Linked DNA regions of Homo sapiens: all the other regions are linked to region 1. The links come from fine-mapping of genetic effects on gene expression. A gene starts in region 1. Each other region holds a variant in brackets. All regions are shown on one strand. Distances are from middle to middle. Region 1 holds the start of ERFE (erythroferrone). Region 2 has its middle 9.2 kb from the start of ILKAP. Region 3 overlaps ILKAP (ILK associated serine/threonine phosphatase).

Region 1 (2,756 bases):
CGTCCCAGGAGACGGCCCCAGCAATGGGGGTGGGTATTGGGCAGCTGCCCTGGTTCCAGCCACAAGGGGTCTCTCAGAAACAAGCCTTGGAGCCTGGGAGGACCTCTGGTGTCACTGTGTCCCCCACAAACAGGGTCCAAGGCCAAAACTCCACCTGGAAGCCCCTGAGCCCCGTCTGCCTCCTGCTGACAGTGCCCTGACATTTGGCTGCTGTGCCCACCTGGGTGGTTTGGCCAACTGCACGGGGAGGGGGTGCCTTCAGTCCCTGGGAAGTGGCTGGGTGTGATGGGGCCGGGATAGAGAACTCTGGGGGACCCCAGGCCTGGCTGCACCCCTGTCCTCTCTAGTAGATGCGTTCCTGGCTCTCCCCTCTACTGCCCCTGAGCATCTTCAGAATAAACAGCACCGGCCGCCCACCCCGGCTTCCCTGGGGCAGCCCTGTCTCCCTGACCCAAGGCCCGGCCACACTGAGGGCTCCTCTGAAGTTCTCCCCTCCTCAGGCCTGGGCCACACCTCCCCAACCGGACCACCCTCTGCTCAGCAGTCCAGGCTCCAAAACCCTGGAGAGGAGGGGGCAGGGCAGAGCTCAAGATCACCCACTCACGGCCAAAAGCCACCTGATCACTTGACTCAAAGCCACATGTCATTCCCCACCCTGCACAGCCCCCCGACCCCAGATCCGCAGGAAAACACTTTTTGTTTTCCAGATAATTGCACCAAATAGATTGGGGGCGGTGGCAGTAATTCGCTTACACTTTTTACAAATGCGTTCTTCCCAATTTCCTCAAATCAAGTTATTTACACTTTATCTATTTCCCAACTTCCTTCTGTCCCAAAAGAAAAGGGGGGTTTCGCCGACCTAGTAGAACCTTGCTTTAAGTCAAACTACCCCAAAGCCAAAGTCAAGGCTGCCCCGCCGGGCTGAGGGCGGCGTCTACACGGCCCTGAGTCTCTGCGGAGCCCCGGAGCCCCGGTGCCAGGCGATGCAGCAGCCCTCGGGGGTGAGGGCGGGCTCGGCCTCCACGTCCGCCTCCCGCCGCCCCGAGCCGGGGCGTGCGGGCGCGGGCTGGGTCTGGAGCGGGCCCGGGCGTCTTACCGGCGGACGAGCGGCCGGCCCCGCGCGGCTCTCCCCGGGGCCCCGGGGCAGCTCGTTCCCGGGCGGCGGCTCCCTGCGGGCGCGGCTCCTCGAGGGCGCCCCAGGCTCCGGGGACCCCAGGCCCGCGGCGGCGGCGGCCAGCAGGCCCGCGTAGACGAGCAGCAGGCGGGCTCCGGCGGGGCGGCGGGCCGGGGCCATGCGGGCGGCGGTTCCCTCGCGGCTCCGAGCGCGGCGTCTCGGACGCCCCGGGCTCCTCGCCTTATAACGCGCTTGAATCCCCCGCCTCGCCCGAGACCGCGCGCCCGCCCGCGCCCCCTCCCGGCTCCCGTGCGCGCTGCATGGGGATGGGGGGAGTGTCCGGGCGGGGGAGGGGGAGTGGGGGAGGGGGCACGGGGAGCGGGGCAGGGCAGGGAGAGCGAGGGGTGTTCCCCTGCTGGGCGCGTCCCCCCTGCAACTCCTGGTTCTGGGATCCCTCCTTCGCGCTGTCCAGCGCTTCTGCTTCCTGGGGAGCGAGGCGCCCCTTCTCCCAGCCCTGGACCCTCGGCCCTCGCGACCCCATTTTCTTTGCGGGGAGCCAGGCGCTGCCTCCTCCCAGACGGCTCGAGGCATCCTTTCTCCCCGCTCTGTCCCCCACGTCCTCTGCAGGGACCCCCGAGGTACCCCCTCCCCATTCTCCTGGCTGCGCCCCGCAAGGCCCAGGCCTCTATGACACAGGTGGAGCAAATCTGAGCCGGGAGACCCTCAGGGCCCCTTCTCAGCGCCCCTTTCCCAGGCGGGAACTCCCCTTTCCAGGCCGCCCTCCGTCCATGGCTGGCGTGCTCTGAGCGCAGGGATTCACTGTTCTTCCCCACCTGTCGCACCTGCCGGGACCCAGAAGACGCAGGGAGCCAAGAAACAACTCAGGACAGCCGCCCTGCCCTGGTGGGGCTGAGCGGGGCCTGGGCTGGGAGAACTGACCCCTATCGTGCCCTAGCGGGGGTGTGGGGGCAGACCAGACCGGAAGCCAGGCTGCCCACCGCCCACCGGAATCAGTGCCCCCAGAGGTGGACCAGACCCTGCAGGCCTCGGAGAAGGTGGCAGAGAGGCCTCTGGGCGGCCCTACCAGGAAAGAGCCAGCCCCAGCCCCACCCTACCCCTGGCTTTGTTATATCGCATGCCCTTTTGACTATCTGCCCCACCACTGGACGCTAAGCCGAGGAGGGTCGCACACTTGGCTCGCTTGCCCCACCCCCGAGGCACCTGCCCCTGGTGGGTACACAGTGCTTTTTGTTAAAGAACGGGAGAAGGCTCCGCTGGAAAAGTACCTTACACTCACACCGAGGGCTGCTGTTCCCGGGGAACTCTTTTGAGAAGAGCCCGCTGGGGAAAGGAGGCCTTACCCTGTCCTGGTTCACAGGATGTGGCAGCAGGGACTGAAAGGGGCACCAGCAGCCGCAGGTGGTGCCCCCCAGGCTTGGGGATGGGCCAAGTTCCGTCCTCAGATGCAAGCTGGCCTTTGTCGCCTGCCTTTTCTGGCCACTCATGCGATGTTCCACCTGGCTGGCCTCATGCCTGGCAGGTGGGGAAACCAGGAAATACTTCATACTTTAGGAAAAGCATGGGATCAGAAGGTAATTATTCCCTGTGATTCCACCCCTTTTCCCATAGGATATGGGAATGG
Region 2 (2,756 bases), 54 kb before region 1:
ACTAGCCTGGACAACAAAGCAAGAGCCCATCTCTACGGAAAAATAAAAAAATTAGTCAGATGTGATATCACACACCTGTAGTCCCAGCTACTCAGGTGGTTGAGACAGGAGGGTCACTTGAGCCCAAGAGGTCAAGGCTGCAGTGAGCCATGACTGCACCACTGCACTCCAGTCTGGAAAACAGAGCAAGACTGTCTCCAAAAAAGGGTGTGGGGGAGACAGGAAGGAGGGAAAGAAGGAAGAGAAAACCAAAAGCAGCTAGAACACAACAAAATGGCAGGAGTATGTCCTTACTTATCAATAATAACATTGAATGTAAATAGACTAAACACTCCAATCAAAAGACATAGAGTGGCTGAATGGATTAAAAAACAAGACCAAATGGTCTGTTGCCTACATAAAACACTATTCACCTATAAAGACACACATAGACTGAAAATAAAAGGATGGAAACAGATATGCATGGAACTGAAAAAAGAGCAGGAGTAGTGATACTTAGATAAGACGGATTGCAAGACAAAAACTATAAAAAGAGACAACATCACTATATAATGATAAAGGGGTCAACTCAGCAAGAGGATATAGCAATTGTAAATATATATGTACCCAACACTGCAGCATGCAGATCTATAAACCAAACATTATTAGTGCTAAGGACAGTGATAGATTGCAATACAATAACAGCTGGAGGCTGGGCATGGTGGCTCACACCTGTAATCCCAGCACTTTGGGAGGCTGAGGCAGGCAGATCACCTCAGGTCAGGAGTTTGAGACCAGCTGGACCAACAGGGTGAAACCCCATCTCTACTAAAAATACAAAGTTATCTGGGCGTGGTGGCACATGTCTGTAATCCCAGCTACTCGGGAGGCTGAGGCAGGAGAATTGCTTGAACTCAGGAGGCGGAGGTTGCAGTGAGCCAAGATCACAGCACTGCACTCCAGCCTGGGCAACAAGAGCAAAACTCCATCTCAAAAAATAAAAATAAATAAAAAATAAAAAAAAACAACAGATGGAGACTTCAACACCCCACTTTCAGCATTGGACAGATCATCTGAAGAGAAAATCAACAAAGAAACATCACACTTAATCTGCACTACAGACCAAATGGACCTAATAGATATTTATAGAGAATTTAATCCAACAGTTTCAGAATATATTCTTCTCCTCAGCACATGGATCATTCTCAAGGATAGATCACATGTTAGGCCACAAAACAAGAATTAAAGCAGTCAAAGAAATTGAAGTAATGTCAAGTATCTTCTTTGACCCCAAGGGAATAAAACTAGAAATCAATAACAAGAGGAATTCTGGAAACTAGACAAACACATGGAAATTAAACAATATGCTCCTGAATGACCAGTGGATCAATGATGTGATTAAGAAGGAAATTGAAAAATATCTTGAAAGAAATGATAGTGGAAATACAACATACCAAAACCTATAGGATACAGCAAAAGCAGTACCAAGAGGGAATTTTATAGTTATAAGTGCCTTCACTAAGAAAGAAGAAAAACTTCAAGCTGGGGCCAGTGGCTCATGCCTATAATCCCAGAACATTGGGAGGCCAAGGCGGGTGGAT[C/T]ACTTGAGGTCAGGAGTTCAAGACCAGCCTGACCAACACAGTAAAACCCCATCACTACTAAAAATACAAAAAAAAGCCAGGCATGATGGTAGCCACCTGTAATCCCAGCTACCTGGGAGACTGAGGCACAAGAATTGCTTGAACCTGGGAGATGGAGACTGCAGTGAGCCAAGATCATGCCACTGCACTCCAGCCTGGGCGACAGAGCAAGACTCTGTCTCAAAGAAAGAAAGAAAGAAAGAGGCTGGGCACAGAAAGAAAGAAAGAGGCTCACGCCTGTAATCCTAGCACTTTGGGAGGCCGAGGCGGGTGGATCACGAGGTTAGGAGATCGAGACCACGGTGAAACCCTGTCTCTACTAAAAATACAAAAAATTAGCTGGGCGCGGTGGCGGGTGCCTGTAGTCCCAGCTATTTGGGAGGCTGAGGCAGGAGAATGTTGTGAACCCAGGAGGCGGAGCTCGCAGTGAGCCGAGATCGCGCCACTGCACTCCAGCCTGGCGACAGAGTGAGACTCTGTCAAAAAAAAAAAAAAAAAAAAGGAAAGGAAAGAAAGAAAGGAAGGAAGAAAGACTTCAAATAAAGAACCTAGTGATGCATCTTAAAGAAAAGCAAGAGCAAACAAAAGCCAAAGTTAGTACAAGAAAGGAAACAATAAAGATCAGAACAGGAAGAAATGAAATTGGAATGAAGAAGACAATACAAAAGATCAATGAGGTAAAAAGTTGGTTTTTTGAGGCTGGGTGCAGTGGCTCACACCTATAATCCCAGCATTTTGGGAGGCTGAGACAGGTGGATCACTTGAGGTCAGGAGTTTGAGACCAGCCTCGCCAACATGGCAAAAAATCCCATCTCTACTAAAAATACAAAAATTAGCTGGGCATGGTGGCGGGCACCTGTAATTCCAGGTACTCAGGAGGCTGAGGCAAGAGAATCATTTGAACTCGGGAGGCATAGGTTGCAGTGAGCTGAGATCACGCCACTGCACTCTAGCCTGGGCAACAGAGTGAGACTCTGTCTCAAAAAAAAAAAAAAAAAGAAAGAAAAAAAAGAAAAAGTTAAATTACACAAGAGCCCCAGGAAAATCCTGCCCTCTTCTTATCACGCCTCACTGAAGCTATGCTAAAATATACCAATTTGGACCCAGAATCTAGAGAAGGTCAAACTTTTTCTACCT
Region 3 (2,756 bases), 30 kb before region 1:
CACTAAGAGCCTGTGGATATAAAAACATGTATATGCTACAGGCCAAAAAAAACCATGTATTTTTACCACTGGGAAAAGTCTTTTACAAACCCCTTCAGCAGGGTCAGTTTGACTCAGGGCCTGGATCTTAACTTTATGTTCTCTCACTGTGGGACCCCCCTCCCCCTCCCCGCCAACCATGAAGACACAACTCCTGGGTCTGCCTGTGTCTGCCAGTCCTTGCTTCAAATGACCTTGTCTTTGAGTGCTAGGATGAAGCCCAGTCTACTAGTGACTTTTTCCAACAGTCTACAGCTGTGTTTCTGTCTGGCTTTTACTTTATTTCCAGGTTCTCTTGCCACATCAATATCCCAGATGGTAAAGACTGAAGGGAAAGGAGCAAAGAGAAAAACCTCCGAGGAAGAGAAGAATGGCAGTGAAGAGCTTGTGGAAAAGAAAGTTTGTAAAGGTTTTCAGACAATTTGAAAACAAATGTATTAGACTTCATATTTTAAAACAACCCAGAGCAAAACCAGTTTCAGCTTTCTAATAATACTTTCTTTTTATGTCTGTATTTAAGAAATAAGTAGGGTTCCCTTTTTGCAAATGAATTTCCAAGTTTCTCTGTGCTTTCTCCTACTTTTCATGTACATCTATCTCTGATCCTACCTTTGATCAGATAGGAAACCTACATTTGTTCCTCAAGAGTTAAAAAATACAGGTGGTTTTTTTCTTAGCCTTCTGCAGTGAATGGTTAGTTTTTTGACCACCTAGTCTCTCTCTGACTTCCAATCTTTGTTTGCAGTTTGTCAATTAGTGCTTTGAATTACGTGATTTAGCTTAGTAGGCAGCTTCCCTAAGCCTGGAAAAAGCCGTTGAAATTTGTAGTCAGTTGTGTAACTTGTCAAAGTTAGTGAGGAAGAAAACGAAAAGTATTAACTAAAGAGAATACTTCAGTTGTGGTACTAAAGTATTCTTGAGCTGTGGGATTTTCTTTTTTTCTCTTTTTTTTGAGACAGAGTCTCGCTCTGTCGCCCAGGCTGGAGTGGCACCATCTCGGCTCACTGCAAGCTCCGCCTCCCGGGTTCATACCATTCTACCTCAGCCTCCCGAGTAGCTGGGACTACAGACGCCTGCCACCACGCCTGGCTAGTTTTTTGTATTTTTAGTAGAGACGGGGTTTCACCATGTTAGCCAGGATGCTCTCGATCTCCTGACTTTGTGATCTGCCCGCCTCGGCTTCCCAGAGTGCTGGGATTACAGGCGTGAGCAACCGTGCCTGGCCCGAGCTGTGGGATTTTCATTGACTGCATTGTCCTTTGTCACAGATTACCTCAGTGAAAGCTGTATGATGCAGGCAGAGGTATGTGAAAAAACCCACTTGTAGCTTTGCTGGGAAGATGTCATCTTCAACTTAGCTTGTCACTTCCCAGAAGACAGCTCTTCACAGTGTTCATTTTATTATTTGTCTGGCATTAGGTATCAGAAAATAAGCTTAAATGAGTCTAACCATTAAATGTAAATAGATCTCTGCCTGCATTGGAATCTTTTATC[C/G]TTTTCTTCCTCAGTTGAAGTAAAAGCAGCTGATCTTACTGTTTGTTCAAATTCTTCACCAGCCTTGAGCATGGAAATACATATTTTCAGGGCATCTTAAGGGCTTTTGAGATAAACTCTCCTGACTTGCATTTGTCCTTATTCAATTATCACAAGACTAATTTGCACATGATCCTTTTGCCTGATTTGAATCTCACTTCTCTGGGATGGCAGCACATCCCTTGCCCTGATGCTTTGACTTACACCCTAGACAGAGTTGTTTTGTGCTCACTGACTCCTCTTTTGTGTCCCTGTGCAACCTCTTAGAGCTCACCCTGTCCAACAGTGCTCCGATTTGAGTTATAGACTTGCAGCTGGGGGAGATGCCTTAAGGGGTATTGCTTATTTGTTTGCGCCATTAGGATATTGCTGAGTCAGACAGTCATAGTTCCCTCTCATTTGCTCTGGGACTAGGGTTTCCAGAGGGTTGGGCACAGTTTTGTATTGGCTCTTTTGTTCTCTTTTCCTTAGCCTCTTCGGTGATCTTTGGTCTGAAGGGCTATGTGGCTGAGCGGAAGGGTGAGAGGGAGGAGATGCAGGATGCCCACGTCATCCTGAACGACATCACCGAGGAGTGTAGGCCCCCATCGTCCCTCATGTGAGTCTCATGTGGTAGGAAGCCCGGCTGGCATTAACATCTCCTGGGTTCTGACTGGCATTTTGGACTGGCTAGTTTGTATTTACTAGAAAATCTAACACATCACTTGATTGTACATCAGTGATTCTCAGCTGGGGTTGATTTTGCTCCCCGCCCAGGGGACATTTGTCAGTGTTTGGGTACATTTTTGTCACAACTGCGGGAGGGAGTTGTTACTGGCATCTGGTGGGTAGAGACTAGGGATGCTGGTAAACATCTTAGAAGCACAGGGCAGCCCCACAACAAAGAATTGTTCAGCCTGGAATGTCAGTAGTGTCGCGGTTGAGCAGCCCTGCTGAGCGGGAGATGACGCTTCATAGCATGGCTCTGCAGCGTGTGTTACTCCTTACCAGCAACTGAGCGGCTTCTGGCAGAGAATATTTTTAATCCATGACCTAGAAGATAAGAGTTGGAAGCCACTAATTAAAGTATGAATGGTGATCAAGCAGAGCTAGTACAGATAATCAGGGCCCAGGAAGAACAAAAGTCAAAATGATGTCAAGGAAAAGACAGACAATGAAAAATTAGCTGCAACTATACAAACTAA

What was found. PIP is the estimated chance that this variant, and not a neighbour inherited with it, causes the effect.
Region 2: its variant is fine-mapped to the expression of ERFE in whole blood (TOPMed, PIP above 0.99).
Region 3: its variant is fine-mapped to the expression of ERFE in whole blood (TOPMed, PIP above 0.99).

What each region holds. Positions count from the first base shown.
Region 1 is chr2:238,157,546-238,160,301 of GRCh38, reverse strand. It overlaps ERFE (erythroferrone), which reads right to left and starts at 1,332. Exons shown (of 8, transcript NM_001291832.2): 1 at 1,097-1,332. The coding sequence starts at 1,294. RefSeq lists a silencer at 1,285-1,354.
Region 2 is chr2:238,211,557-238,214,312 of GRCh38, reverse strand. No RefSeq gene overlaps it. Among named protein-coding and RNA genes, the nearest start is that of ILKAP, 9.2 kb to the right of the region's middle. The variant C/T (reference allele first, on the strand shown) is at 1,581.
Region 3 is chr2:238,187,545-238,190,300 of GRCh38, reverse strand. ILKAP (ILK associated serine/threonine phosphatase) reads left to right here. Exons shown (of 12, transcript NM_030768.3): 4 at 329-448; 5 at 2,044-2,170. Among named protein-coding and RNA genes, the nearest start is that of ILKAP, 15 kb to the left of the region's middle. The variant C/G (reference allele first, on the strand shown) is at 1,534.